4 linked regions of the Homo sapiens genome follow. The protein of the gene in region 4 interacts with the protein of the main gene of each other region in a biochemical or structural test. Each region holds a gene or a part of one and is shown on either strand. Other genes may lie near its edges.

Region 1 (3,857 bases), on a different chromosome or scaffold from region 4:
AGTTTCAGGGAAGAAATTCTATATTGTAGTGTCTATAATTATTGCTTTCTTTTGTTTTTGCAGAATACACTTTTTAAAGAACATCAGGATTTGGTAAAACAGCCAGTAAAAAAGCAATGAAGGAAAAAAAATGCACATGTAAATGCTCATTTCTAGAACAAAAGAGAGTGCGATTTTGACAATATCAGAAGGTTAATTAAGAAGTCTGTGAGTGATGATAAAGCTGGCACATTTTCATTACAGATTGACACAACTCAAGTCACAGGCATAGCTAATGTTTGCTCTATAATACTCTGATAAGTCAGAGAATCTAAGTGAGAAGAACTGGTATCTATGGTAAACATAGGGTCAAGAGCTAGATGCGGCTGAATAGAAAGGACATTTACTTTGCAGTTAGGTAAAGAAGCCTCTAGCTCAGACTAGCTGCACTGTTGTTATTTGTGTGGCTTGAACCTAGTAATCGGATTCAGAACTGGAATGGGTTCCTTCAGGGTACTTTACAAACGTTCAGGATGCATTTTAAGTGTAGTCTAGAAGGTGGTACATGGAAGAGCTGAGGGACTTGAGGATTATGGACTGCGAAAGGACTGTAGGTAGTCCTGTATTTTGGCCTGTCACCAATATAGAGACCCCTCCTCATCATAGTGTCATCCATTCTCTTTTTGAAGACCCAGGGTGAAAGAAAGGGGGTCACAGTGTCACGAGATAGCCCATTCCACGTGGGACAGCTCTACTGCTTTTGTGCCTGTCTCACTGAAAAAAAAAAAAAAACAGGGAAATTATCTAAAAACATATGTTTAGGAAATATACACACATTCACACACGTACACAGACACATATGCACACACTCACATATACACACACATGAACACGCTAACACACATGTGCATGCACATGCTAACACATGCACAAGCATACACACACATGCACACAGTCACAATATACACACATGCACATGCTCACAAACACATATGCATGCACACGCTAACACACATATGTACACATAAATGCTTGCAAACACACACACACGTACATTTTAGTGAATAGCACACATCTATGTACTCCTGTGGAGAGTCCTGTGGTTTTAATACCTGTTAAAGTTGGGCTCCCAAAGCAGTCATTAAACGTGTTGGAATGATGCTTTTTGCTTAGCTGTTTTGGCACATTTGGAAATCTGCAGTATTACCTGTTGATTAGTAGACAGTAATGTGGCTGTATTACACACCCAGTGATTAGTTTCAGAAACAAATAGCATGTTAATAGTCAAGGAATCTTTGAGATGTTCTTGAGGAAACCAAAAAACTTGATTTAATGACTTAAATTCCAGGAACATCCCACTGGGCTTAGAGCTCTTTGTCAAAAGTTGGTACCCAATATATGTAGAAATGTAAAGTGACCAAATGTATAACATTAAATCAAAGCCATTCCCAGTTTGCTGCATATTTTTTAATGAAACCTGAAAAATAAGAGTCACTATTTTTAAATTCAGCCATAAGGAAACTTTGCAACCTAATAATGTGTAAGGCATTTCTGAGGCCCCAAGTGGAAATACTGGGTCTAGAGAGACCTTTATGAAATAGAACAGGTTGAAACACCTTCCACCAGAAAAGTGTAAGACATTTGAAAAAAGATTGAGTCAGAAAAGGGAAATGTGTCCCATTTGAGAGACCAGAAAGGGAAACAAGAGTCCAGTTCCTGCTGTGTCCGTGCAGTTGCCACAGCTGCGTTCGCTGACATGTCGGCTTTAATGGAAGCAGTGAGGACACAATCTGTCTGGCACAAGCTGGTTTGGGTGTTGTCTCATGCTAAGAAGGCCCTGGACCTGATGGAGAGCCTGGACCTGTTCCCTGTCCTTATCAATGACAGACGGAGGGTGGAACCTGAATTTCCTAATGGAGGGATCCTTAGGGATTCCCTAAGCTTAATTTGTTTTTGACTGTTCCAGTCCTAAAGGAGGTGGGTCCTGGACAGGAGGGAAAACAGCCTCATGGCCCATGGGTCTCTGCCCAGGGAATTTCAAAGCTTCCAGCGTTCATACTTCCCTTACCCTAAGACAGCAGTGCTGATTCAGCTTGAGTGTGCATGAGAATCACCTGGAGAATTTATTCAACATAGAAGGCTGCTTCCCCACCCTCAATTTCTGATTCAGTAAGTCTGAGGTGGTGCCCAAGAATTTGCATTTTGAACAAACTCCCAGGTGATGCTGATCGGGGGTGGGCCTGGGTCTGCGCTGTGAGAATCACTTGCCTAAGAGCACTAACAAAGAAAAAAAGAGGACATAACTAGATCACCCACTTCCTAGCCAGCAACCAGAGCCCATCTCTGGCTGGGGAGAATGAAAGCGAAGGTGGGAAAAGAAGAGGCCCTCAACCAGGGGCAGCTCCTTTTCCCCACCTTGGCCTGGGAAGGCAGAGCTGCTCCTCGAGTTTGACGCTCAGAAGCATTAATTGTGATACTTTACTTTGCCTAAGCCGTGATGAAATAATTGAAGGCATCATAGCAAGAAGTTAAGCCCTAGGGAGGCTATTAACAATTTAGCATTTCCAGTTCATGTGGGAATGTCGATTTTACTTACCAAAGAGAATATTATGGATGTGTTTAGTGGAAGAAGCAGCAGAATCAGCTGGGGTCCCCAGTTGGCTTTGCTTTGACCCTCTTCCTGAAGGAAGATAAATGCAAGGGTGAGTCTCACAAAGACAGTGTGCTTTTTTTCTAAAGTAAATAGCTTCTTAGGCTGATAGAAATGTTTTTAGCTGTCTAATTCTGCAGGGGAAGCAGAGGTAGAGGGTGAACACAGCAAAGGTGAGGCCAGGAGGCCCAGGCAGCAGAGCAGGCCTTGTTTTCCAATTGTGAGACCAAGTCAGTTCATTGGCACCTTTCGAAAGCCCCATGTAGCGCTGCTGGGCTGGACCCTCCCCCAAGACGGTTAAGTACTGCTTAATGGATCAGTAGAAACAGGACCTTCTTGTTGGGCAGTGAAGACCACGGCAGGAGCAGCAGGGGGGAAGAGACAAATTCCCAGGAAAGACCACTGGATCAGGAGTCAGGAGATTAATTCTAATCTTCACATTGTGGTTAATCATCAGTGTAGCCATGGGCAAGTCACTTAATTTCTCATGGCCTCAGTTTCCCCATCTGTAAAATGAAGGGACAGACTTGATGATAGCTAGGGTTTTTTACAACTTAGAAAACAAAAACAAAAACAAAAACAAAAACAAACTATGCTGCCAGATAGTCAGATGAGACCTCACTTTGCCACACGGCCAGACACTGTAGAGATCTGGTCCTGCCGTCAGCTTGTTTAGGGCTAATGGGTTTGTAGACAAGTTTGCCAACAAGAGATTCATGCGAGGGGCTAGGCATGGATTAGGTTAGCAGTTCTCCCATTTCTTGCTGGAGGCCTGCTGAAGCACTTCAGGGTCTCTTCCCAGAGTAAGTGGCAGAGAATTTGAAATTTGATACTCCCCATACAAGGATCCAAGTACCTGTTGCGTTTATGCTGGGATCACAGAGATACCTGGGTTGCCTGTGTTTCCTAAGAAAAGGATGTCTGTTTTGGCAGCAAACTTAGTGAACGGCTGAGGCAAAAACAAGTGCAAAGATGGATTCTCAGATTTCTCATTGAAAAATACCATGACAAAATCTGTAGTAATTTTACGCCACACTCTCAATTCACTTGACGTAAACAGTCAAATGTAGACATACTTGTTTGTTAAGTCCGGTCTTCCTGCTTGTGTTGGTTCACTTTGTGGTGTTTATTTTGTTTTGGGTCAGAGAGGATGAAATGTCTCTGTAGATGTTCTCAGGCTAGGTGGTGCTTCCACCAGGGCTTCCCTCTGCAGGCCTGGTAACAGCAG
Region 2 (2,933 bases), on a different chromosome or scaffold from region 4:
AACCTAGGGCTGTACTTAGCTGTGGAACAGGTGCAAGATGGTGTGGGGGTGGGGAGGCAGACTATTGCTTGAACATTTTTAATGGTGATAGTATTAACATTTAATTTTTTGACAAAATTTTAAAATCCTTTATTTGTGCTGATAAAGCATGTTAAATACATTAAATCTATTTACACTGTACAAAGCTTTTAAAGTTCTAAAAATCAGATTTTTATCTAAATGAATAAATTTCTCTGTATTGTTAAAACCATTCTACTTAACTGCATTGTTCTCCAAGTCCCTCCAGCCAGGAGGCACGGTAACAATGTGTCAGATCTCCACACTGAGACACCACCTTCCCAAGATCATGGTACATCAGCAGCAGAACTGAGACAAAAACTGGAACAAGGACCACCTTGCTCCTACTGCATTATAGCTTTTGATAGTATTTGCTACTTGAAGAGGAGGCTATACCTTGTCTAGCTCAATACAGTTTATGTTTCAGACACTATAAGTATGATACCCAAATGCTTCATGAGTGAACAAGGTCAGCAGATCACCCTGAGAACAAGGAAGACACAATTTCCTTATAGGCTAATGATTATAAAAATAGAAATTAAGAGCTCCCCAGAAACAAACCACTTAGTCAAAAAGGAAGGAGTTTTGACTTTCTTCTAAGCCAAGTACTCAAGTTTAAGACTTATTGGCCTATTTAAAAATTCTTTCTATGACTTCTAAACAATGATGGCAAAGTGACAAAAATAATGTAATCATCTTCTTCCCTCATTATATATAAACCAAACTAAAAACAAAAGAAATGAACAAGCTATAATCCAAAAAAAACTAGAAAATCCTGACAGGAATCATATAGAACATCTCTAAGAAAAGGATTCTTGGCTTAAGCAAAATATTAGAGCAGAGAAAGCAAAACTCATGTCCTCTCATGCAGTCCGGCAAGGCCCCCCTGCCCAGAACCCTCCTCTCTGAGTCACATGGATGAGCAGACAGAAGATCTGGACACAGCTATCCATGTTAAGCATGAGAGAGATGTAAAGAAATAGCAGGGTAGGAGGGCAGGCATACTACAGAAAAATGAGAGAGAGGAAAAGAGCATGCCAGAGAATACAAATCCAAGAAACAAACTGCACTAAGACAGCTAAGAAGAAATTTCAGGAATACGATGAATTTCGGAAAACAACACTTCAAAGATGAGATGATAAAATCATCCTGAGAAGGAAACAAGAAAAACATGGGTAAGAAAATAAACTGAGGATCAAAGCAACACCATCACAGAACCACAAACACATAAACAGTAGTGAGATACAAACAGCCTTGGCTGGAATCCAAACCGCAGAAACAAGAAAGCCCGTCGCAAGGAATGCAAAGGCAGGCGCAAGACGAAGGCAACTGGAGAGAAGACAGCCTGCCAGCCTGCAGACAAGAGAGGCCTGGAGTGGTGTCACTTCATGGTAACAACGGCTGGGTCTGCTGTGGGCTGCAGTGATGTTTGTGTGCATGCATGTGTGTGGTTTTTATGTACCTACTTTTGGCTTTAATTTGATTTTTTTTAATGATAACACATTTTGTGACTGTAGGAGAGAAAAAGATGCCCTCTGCTTAAAGGAAAGCCAGGGTAAACTGAATACCCTACAGCTTTCCACAAATACATGTCTTATCATTTATTACCATACTATTTCATGCTTTACTAATAAAAATACTCACCAATTTACCAGTACCTTGAAAAGAGGATCTTTCCAAGAAAATTAATATAATTATCAAACAACAAATAACAAACCTGACCTTTGTGGGTGGCAAATGGTAAATATAAATGTTTAAAGTTTAAGCATCAAAATAATGCTGTTATCAGATATTGATGAACTTATTGAACAGGTCTGACTGAATGTAAGACCTGTTTTTAGCACCAATAAAAAAAAATATTGAGATTTCTGTTCTGCAAACTTCTAACTGTGCTCCCTGACAGCATCTTTTGGGTAAAGGAACAAATGTGCTCCAAGGAGTAACTGTTAGGTACCTGATTTACAATATAATTAGATTGCCAAAAAAAAAAAAATCAATCCAAGTATTTTCTCCTTTAGCTAGCATTATTAAAACTTTTAACTTTCAGAGAAGAGTTTCTTCTTCCTTAAAGTTTTAATTCTGAGGTAGACATCATGCAAACAAACATCAAGTGCAGCCAACTTCCATTGACAAACATGATTATTAATAATAAATTAATAATCAGAAATGCCCGTTAGAAAAAGGGACTTGAAAGTTTAGGAAGCAATGTTGTTTAGCAGTATTCTGGCTTGAGTTTCCAAATTCCTTCACCACCAGAAGTTCTATGGAAAGTGCACAGATTTCTCAATAGTTCTCGGAAGACACAAGACTGTGATGCAGATAACTTGGATTCAAACTCCTGCAGTATCTCCCTGGTGCTGGCCTGGCCATCAGTGTGGGCCTGGAAAGCGATGAAGTTTCTCATCTCCACCAGAAGGTCATCGTGTTCTGTGGTGGGCAGCAGGGCAGAAGCTTCCTGCAGGTGCCCGCTTTCACTTTCTAAACGCTCTGGCAGAATCAGGTGGTTTCTAGCTCTCATTTTAGCCAAGAGTGAGGAGGAAGCGAGGGGCCCGGATGAAGAGTCTGCATCTTCTGCTCTTCCACTAAAATGCTCAGGGACATTATCTTTTCCCTCCTTTTTCATGATGCCATCCTATAAAAAGAAGACCACTATACTGATATATTTAATTTCTAGTTTATGCCCCCACTTCCTTCCCCAAAGGCTGTGAAGGGTCACAAGACAACACATGTGCCAGGGTGGTGAGGTTGACAGGGTGAGACTGAGACTCCACCTAATGAAAAGGGAAAGGAGGAGGGTCTGGTATCTAAATCCTCCCACTGTTAAGAGACCGTTTCCTAAAAAAAAATAAAGAGGGGGCAACCAAGCCATTCCCTTA
Region 3 (3,857 bases), on a different chromosome or scaffold from region 4:
ATCCAGCTTGAAGTGAGACCTGACAGAGTCTCAATGTCGTGAATCCCATTCCGCTCGTGCATGGACTCTAACTTCGACAGGGCTCACTCAGCACATGGTGTTGTTCTCAGCACCTGGCCCGTATGATCTCACACGATCCCCAGAACGACCCTTCAGAGCCTGTCCTATCCTTAGCTCCATTTTATAGATGGGGAAACTGAGGGATGGAGAGGGGAAATGACTACATGGGGCAGAACAGCCTTCACCCCCAAGCAGTCTCATACACTTGACCACCGCTTTCCAATCATGGAAGCCTCAGAACAGGGAAGGATTCTGGCATGCGGGGCACAAAGCCCAGGAGTGTCCAAACCATTCTCTGAATGTCCCACGCCCTGCCCTGGAAACCTAGCTAGCCCCATGCTCACTCCACCCACAGCAGCTCCACACTGACCTGTCTCAGAAAATAACACGAGCCTCGTTTTCAAATGTTGCATACATACACATATACATACATACGTGTATTTTTACAGAAGGGGAAACTGAGGCAATGACTTCTTTAGGGCCCCTGGCCAGCTGAAGCACAGACCAGGAACACAGTCTGAGGCTCTTGACCCCACAGCCACTGTGCCAAATCCTCTATGTGAAATTTCTCAGGGAAGAAATTTCAGTTCCCAGGAACGCCTAGACTCAAAGCCCCACCTTCCTTCAGCAGAGTCAAAAAGAGTCAGGACCCCCGAGTCCCTTCTCCCCACTGCGACCATTGGAAAGAGGTCTAGGGTTGGGGTCCCGGGAGGCAGGGCCCCCTGGGATGCTGCCAGCCCAGGGTGTGCACAAACACACATACCTGTGTGGTTTTCTCCCCCCGTAAAATCACATCCTTCTATAAATAACTGCAGATGCGGTAACAGGCACGCAATTAACCTGTGTGAAACACGTTTACACTGGGGTTCTCCATGTTAACTTGAAGAGATGGGTTCAATGCATCCTGATCCGAAAAGGGACAAAACCAGGTAAGGACAGCAGGCCCATTCCATCTTTACAAAGGCCTGCTTCTTCCTAACGGGTTACTGGGAACTTAATGACTCCATTCCAACTACTAATTAAACAGGCACTAAAAACACTTAAGCAAACAGCCCAGTGCCAGGGACACAAATCACAAAGGGACAAAAAACACCAGAATAGGATAGTTTCAGGTATTCAAATTGATCGGGAAACATGGTGGTGCAAGCTGGTGAGGGCCAATGAACTGGGACCGAATGAAAAAAGAGAACTGTACCAGACATGGTGGCAGAGGGCAGGAGGTAAGAGCAGGCCCCTTAGAAGGGTCTCCTGGAGCAGTCCTAGGGGCTCAGCCTCCTGCAGTCCCAGCCCCAGGAACAGGACACTGCCCTTCCTCACGTCCCTCCCAGAGCACTGCAATCAAGCACTGGTTGCTCACAGGCTCTGAGTCCTGGCAGCTCTCAAGGCCTAAAATCTAAAAAGGCCTTTAATGCCAGAAGAAGAGCCAAAGCCAAAGATGTGGCAGGTGCTGGATGGAGAGCCTGGGATCAAATCCCACCTCCACCACTCCCTCCCTCCCTGCTCCTCCTTCCCCTTCTGCAGGTCCCCACTCCCTGTCCTCCCCACCACCAGACTGCAAGCTGCACGAGGGCAGGGACCTGCCTGCCGACTCTTCCTGTGTGTGCACAGTGCTACAAGCTAGGTGCCTTCCAAATGGCTTCAAGCTAAAGAATGAATAAATGGATGGATGGATGGATGGATGAACGGATGGGTGGATGGATGGATGCATGGATGGATGCATGGATGGATGGATGGCTACATGGATGAATGGATGGATGGATGGATGGATGGATGGATGGATGGATGCATGGATGGATGGATGGATGGATGGATGGATGGATGGATGGATGGATAGATGGATGGATGGATGGATACAGGGATGAATGGATGGATGGATGGATGGATGGATGGATGGATGGACGGACGGATAGACGTGAGCTGTGAGAACTCAACATCTCTGAACATCATTTTCTCATCTGCAAAGTGAGGAGAATAAAGTATTAGGGTTGCTGTGAGGGTTAAATTCAAGAAGGCACACATGCCCAGCACAATGCAGCACATAGCAGGCCCTCCATACACAGTCCTCATAAGGATCCTAGTGGCATGTATGAGGACTTGCTGATGGCAGAGCCCCCCAGAGCCAAGGCAGTGGAAAGCTCATTCGACCTCCCGTGGATGTCGGCAGAGGCAGCGTGGCTCCACAGGAAGAGGGGTGGCCTTTCAGGAGGCAACCAAGGACAAATCCCAGTTCTGCCACCCTGGCTAGCCACTCTCCCTCCCCAAGCCCTTGCTTCTCCATCTGCAAAATGGGGATGGTAACAGCTCCTGGTCAGCACCATACAAAGATGCTAAGCAGGCCTGGCCACATGAGGGAGCGGCTCAGTCCTCTAGCTGAGTCTCATCTACTTCAGCAACTTCTAAGTAGGGCCAACAGAGGGTTAAGCAAAGCCCTGGGTGAGCCTCTGGTGAGATCAGATTTCTGTGCCACGGAACTTGACCGCGTCCAGTAATAAACACTCAGGCTGATCTTCGATAGCATGGCCCCCCCAGTGGTTGCCGAGGCTGCAGCGCTAATGACAGGAAGCCACGAGAGCAAGGCAACCACCCAGACAGAGCAGGCACCCCCTGCTCAGCAAGCAGGGCCTTCCACAGACTCACAGAACAGATCTACTGAACCAGGACAGGAGGCCTGAGCACCTGGGGACCAGCACAGCCCAGAAAAGGGAGCCGGCGTCTTTGCAAGTGGTTCCGACTCCTTCCCAGGAGATTTTGGGTTTTGCTTTGTGCCTTTAAGGCACAAGTCCAGTAAGAAACCAGAACTCCCTTTTGGAAGCCAGATCCTATGATGTCACCACCTGTCACAGCAGGGAGGGTACACTAAAGCTCCAGGCCACCCTACTAGGGAGCTCTGGAGCCCAGGAAGCTCTGGACCCTGGAGCAGGGGCTGCCTGTGGCCTTTTACAGAGCTGTGGCCATGGCTTTTGCAGAGCTGTGGCTCCATCAGGGACCGCCTGTGGGGACAGCTTCAATTAAAAACACAACCTGCCCAATAAAAATAGTTTTCCTTTCACAATTCAAGTCGAGAGAAAGCCTGCAACATGCCTGGTGACAAAGCAGGGACCAATCAAATCTGCCCCAGCTCTGCACCCCCCTTCTCCTTTCCTGCCCCTGCCACAGAAACCAGGCCACGGCTGCTCACCACATGTGTCTGTGTCAGCATCCTGGTTTGCGTGGCCACAGTGCTTTCACGCCAGGCCCTGCCGAGATGCCGGGGGGACAGACTTGTGAGAGGGCCCTTTGCCCTTGAATTCCCAAGGACCCCAAGGATTCCCAGAGACCCTAGGCAGAATAAGATCTTGGGTTCCACTTGGGGAGAAGCAGGGCAGGTAGAGGCCAGTTTGTGTCACCACACCGGCCCATCTGCCCATCTGTAGAATGGGCAGCCACACCGCCCGCCCGGGAGAGCAGGATGAGTCGGCACAAACAGCTGTGTCTGGGTCTGGCCCAGAGCCGGACGCACAGCAGGTACTCAGCCCCCGCCCCCACCCCTCACACACCTCACAGTGTTTCACTCCCTCTCGTGGCCACAGCTTTTTAAGAGGCTCCTTTTGAGCCACTTTTTTTCTTTTTCAAAGCTAATGGGCAACACATTCTCCCAAAGAGAAACTCAGCATTTTGGACGGCTCCAGCAATGTACACAGTCAACCAAGGAATCTTCCCCTAGCCTGGTCTTGGCGGGGCAGGGGATTGTCTGGGGTGGGGGAGGGGGTGGCAGTGGCAAGGGCCGAAGAAAACCTCAGATGTTAAGTGTTATCCAA
Region 4 (4,215 bases):
AAAACCTTTAAAGCAGACAGTTGGGGGCATTGTATTTGATTTAAAAACAATTTTAGTAGTAAAATAAAACCTAAATCAAAACTATAAAGAGGTTGTATGAAGCGTACAGCAAGGTTTGGAAGTCTGATGCCCTGGCAACTGAATTGCCCCTGAAGGTGCCAATAATTTGTGAGCATTGTGTGTAATTTCTTCTTAGAATTATTTCTTAGCTTGTTTAATATTAAAATTACATTAGATAGGGGGCCAGGCATGGCGGCTCATGTCTATAATCCCAGTACTTTGTGAGGCTGAAGCAGGAGGATCGCTTGAACCCAGGAGTTCGAGACCAACCTGGGCAACATAGACCCTGTCTCTACAAAAAATTGTAAAATTACATTAGATAAAATTTGGGATTAAAATGGTGAGTTTTAGCAACTATACTGACAGGTGGAAGATAAGTATTGTCTAGCAATCCCACAGGTTTGAGATTGTTTGGTTAGTTTTGTGGGAAGGAAAAAAATGTCTCACTTGGAGGGCTGGGTTTTGTTTTTTAGTAGTTGTTACTACTAAAGTCTTTGGGCTAGGTATAAGGACAGGGCTGATATTGATACATAAAGAGTGATTTCACTGTTGAGCACTGGCAAATTCTACAAATTGAAGTTTTTAAGAGAAAAACCATAAAAACATTTCCTTGGCTTACACATTTCTCAAAGTTTTATTGCCATATCTTTAGACAGATCTATAGTACTGATTTGTAATTATATTTTACTCCTGGGATGCAACAGGCTTTGAGTGAAGTATAGGGATTGCACATCAGTTTATGTGTAGATTTTTTTAACTATACATTTCACCTTTTAATTCTAAGGCAATAAACAGTTAATGAAGGGATTTTGAGTTAATGTTTATTATTGACAATAATTCCTCATTCTGCAACTTCAATTATGAACAACTCTAACTTATTTCCAGAAAGTAAACATCCCGTCCTTACACCAAATATAAACAGTAGCCAGATGTGGTGAGGCTGAGGCGAGAGGATCGCTTTTGAGCCCAGGAGTTCAAGGCTGTAGTGCACAGTGATCGTGCCTGTGAATGAATAGCTACTGACTGCAGCCTGGGAAACATAGCGAGGCCATGTCTCTAAGGAAAAAAAAAACCTAATTGATTGTAGTATAGAAATAAGTTGTTTTTGTGAGTGTGTTTATGTTTTAAGATTACTTTCTGGGCTGATACTGGTTTAGCAGATGTTCGTGCTACAAGAATTTCACTGATGAAAGCGTTATATTCTTTATTCTTACAGTAAAATTGGGGAAGAACAATCAGCAGAAGATGCAGAAGATGGGCCTCCAGAACTCCTGGTACGCATTGGCTTATAGAAGATGAAATGTCATATGCAGATTGGATTGTCATTGATCTCTTTATTTCGAGAATGGGTCAGAACTTCGAATTCTAGCTCTTGCAGATGGTTTCAAAATGGAGGCCCTGAAGGTTATTGCAACTGGGCTTTGACATTTATCAAAAATAGTAAATGGAGCCCAGTAGGTTTTTATGAATGTTTCACTGAGAATGGTTTGAGGTCCTGGAAAATAGTATATAGTAATTTCTCACTGATTTCAACTCTGGTATTTGTGATGGTTTGGGGATGGGGAGTGAGTATAATTGCTATTCAGTTGGCAGTACTTAACATTTCCTAACAGTATAGAAAAAATTTTAAATGCTTTTTAAGTTTCCTGCCCAGAAAAGGAGTGCTTTCTCAATCTTGATGTTAGCAGAGCCCACTATCTCCCTCCCATGCCTGATTGAAGCATCACGCATCTCCTTGGCCCTTTGAAAGCTTATGTGGTGGTATCTGCCCATCCTCATTCTTCCCGTCTGAGTCCTTCAGTGCTCACTTCGTCATTTTTCTATGAAGCATTGCCGGATTTAGCAATGGTTCCCTGTCCTTGCTCTGAATCCAACATTTGTCTCCTCCCATTATTTGGCCGATAGTCACTCATCACTCTGTCATTTACGATTTTAGTTCTAATGCCAGTACTCATTTTTGGCACACTTGTACTTTGTCCATGAGTTTTATTTATTCATTTTTTCTGTGAACCTATGGAGTATATTGAATGTCCACAAGTTTTCAAAGGTAAAGAAGGTCCTTGAGAGCAAGCCCTGCACACAGAAGATGTTCACTAAGCCCACCTTGTAAGAATGCTCCAGACCCTTTTATTTTGATGACGGCTTTACTGAGATATAATTTACATACCACACAGTTCACTTCTTTAAAGTGTACAGTTCAGTGGGGAGGGAGTGTTCTTGGGTTTTGGGGGTTTTTTTTCTTTTTTTGTTCTTGAAGTCAGTGGTTTTTAGTATATTCATAGACTTGTAAAACTATCACCACAAATCAATTCTAGAACATTATTCATCCCCTCCAAAAGAAACTATAGCTATCACCTCCCAATTCTCTTCTTCCTCCAGCCCTTGGCAACTACTGTGCTACTTTCTGGCACTATAAGATTGGGCTATTCTAGATATTTCATATAAATATGACTTTTGTCTTTTGGGACTGATTCTTTCACATAGTACAATGTTTTCAAGGTCTCCAGCTATTTTTTTTAGGGAGAAAGGAAAGCGTATTACTTTGTATATTATGCCTCTGCAACAATTCCAAGGTCCTTGAGAAAATACACTAGGATTTTGCTTTTTACAAGAGAGCTTGAAATCAAGGGACATTTGAGAGTAGTAAACTGGGCCTGGGCATGGTGGCTCCTGCCTGGAATCCCAGCACTTTGGGAGGCCAAGGCAGGTGGATCACGTGAGCCCACAAGTTCAAGACCAGGCTGGGAAACATGGCAAAACCCTGTCCTGTCTCTACCAAAAAAAAAAAAAAATACATAAATTAGCCAGGTGTGGTGGCGCGTGCCTGTAGTCCCAGCTACTTGGGAGACTGAGGTAGGAGAATCACCTGAGCCCGGGAAGTTGAGGCTGCAGTGAGCCATGATCACACCACTGCACTCCAGCCTGGGCAATGGGAGTGAGACCCTGTCCCAAAAACAAAGTAGTAAACTATTCCACCAGTATGCTTTGATAACTCCTGTATGTTTTCTAAGCCCCAGTGATCTTAAAATATATTCACCTGTGTACCCCTTAAGAGTACTCTCTCTGTCGCCCAGGCTGGAGTGCAGTGGTGCAATCTCAGCTCACTGCAACCTCTGCCTCCCGGGTTCAAGTGATTCTCCTGCCTCAGCCTCCCGAGTAGCTGGGACTACAGGTGCGCAACACCATGTCCAGCTAATTTTTGTATTTTTAGTAGAGACAGGGTTTCACCATGTTGGCCAGGATGGTCTTGATCTCTTGACCTCGTGATCCGCCCGCCTCAGCCTCCCAAAGTGGTGGGATTACAGGCGTGAGCCACCACACCCGGCCAGTATATTCACTTGTGTACCCCTTAAGAGTACTTTAAAAAGCTATTTACCTCTTTTTTTTTTAAGTCAAGGTCTGGTTCTGTCACCCAGGCTGGAGTGCAGTGGCGCAGTCTTAGTTCACTGCAACCTCCACCTCCCAGGTTCAAGCTGTCTTCCCATCTCAGCCTCCTGAGTAGCTGGGACTATGGGCACACCCCACCACGCCCGGCTAATTTTCGTATTTTTTGTAGAGACGGGGTTTTGTCATGTTGCCCAGGCTGGTCTTGAACTCCTGAGCTCGAGCCATCCGCCTGCTTTGGCCTCCCAAAGTGCTGGGATTACAGGCGTGAGTTTTACCCAGCCCCACCTCATATTTTTAACCCGATAAGATTATTCGGTAAAATAGATACATTGCATAATACCTAGTTGGCAGGCAGAGACCTCATTGTCAAACTAGAGTCAAATCAGACTTTGTCAGAAAGTGTGATGTCCCAGTTCCAAACAGTGTATTTAGTACTGTCCTTGTGAAGAAGTGTTTCGTTTAAATCTTAATTCTAAGATAAAAAAATAAGGCATAGTGCATTCCGACGAGGTTGTCTCTTGCGGGGAACAACTGCTCTCTTCAGAATTGTTTAGCAAAGCTCTCACCTTAGGCATAGCTTATGAGGGACTATCTGGAGCTATGCTTTTGGAGCCAGGGATTTTCTTTCACCCTGGTGCTGTCTGTGTACGTTGGAAAGATGGGCAAGAAGTATGCCTCTCTCAGTAAAGTGGAGAGGGGAAGAACCAGAAGACTCCTCAGGCCCCTTGTATAATAGAAGAGTATGTTACATGGCATATAACGGATTGA

Evidence for each region. Proteins that work in one complex are often made in the same cells at the same time.
Region 1: the proteins of RBBP7 (region 4) and BCL11A form a complex in vitro, tested with the Homo sapiens proteins (one study listed by BioGRID).
Region 2: the proteins of RBBP7 (region 4) and ERCC6 form a complex in vitro, tested with the Homo sapiens proteins (one large-scale study listed by BioGRID).
Region 3: the proteins of RBBP7 (region 4) and BCL11B form a complex in vitro, tested with the Homo sapiens proteins (one study listed by BioGRID).

What each region holds. Positions count from the first base shown.
Region 1 is NC_000002.12:60,470,155-60,474,011, reverse strand, and holds part of BCL11A (BCL11 transcription factor A), read left to right. Parts: intron 1-3,857. UniProt on the Homo sapiens protein: Transcription factor. Associated with the BAF SWI/SNF chromatin remodeling complex. Binds to the 5'-TGACCA-3' sequence motif in regulatory regions of target genes, including a distal promoter of the HBG1 hemoglobin subunit gamma-1 gene.
Region 2 is NC_000010.11:49,456,546-49,459,478, forward strand, and holds part of ERCC6 (DNA excision repair protein ERCC-6), read right to left. Parts: intron 2,690-2,933; coding exon 2,270-2,689; 3' UTR 1-2,269. UniProt on the Homo sapiens protein: Involved in repair of DNA damage following UV irradiation, acting either in the absence of ERCC6 or synergistically with ERCC6. Involved in the regulation of gene expression.
Region 3 is NC_000014.9:99,227,198-99,231,054, forward strand, and holds part of BCL11B (B-cell lymphoma/leukemia 11B), read right to left. Parts: intron 1-3,857. UniProt on the Homo sapiens protein: Key regulator of both differentiation and survival of T-lymphocytes during thymocyte development in mammals.
Region 4 is NC_000023.11:16,846,363-16,850,577, reverse strand, and holds part of RBBP7 (histone-binding protein RBBP7), read left to right. Parts: intron 1-1,276; coding exon 1,277-1,334; intron 1,335-4,215. UniProt on the Homo sapiens protein: Core histone-binding subunit that may target chromatin remodeling factors, histone acetyltransferases and histone deacetylases to their histone substrates in a manner that is regulated by nucleosomal DNA.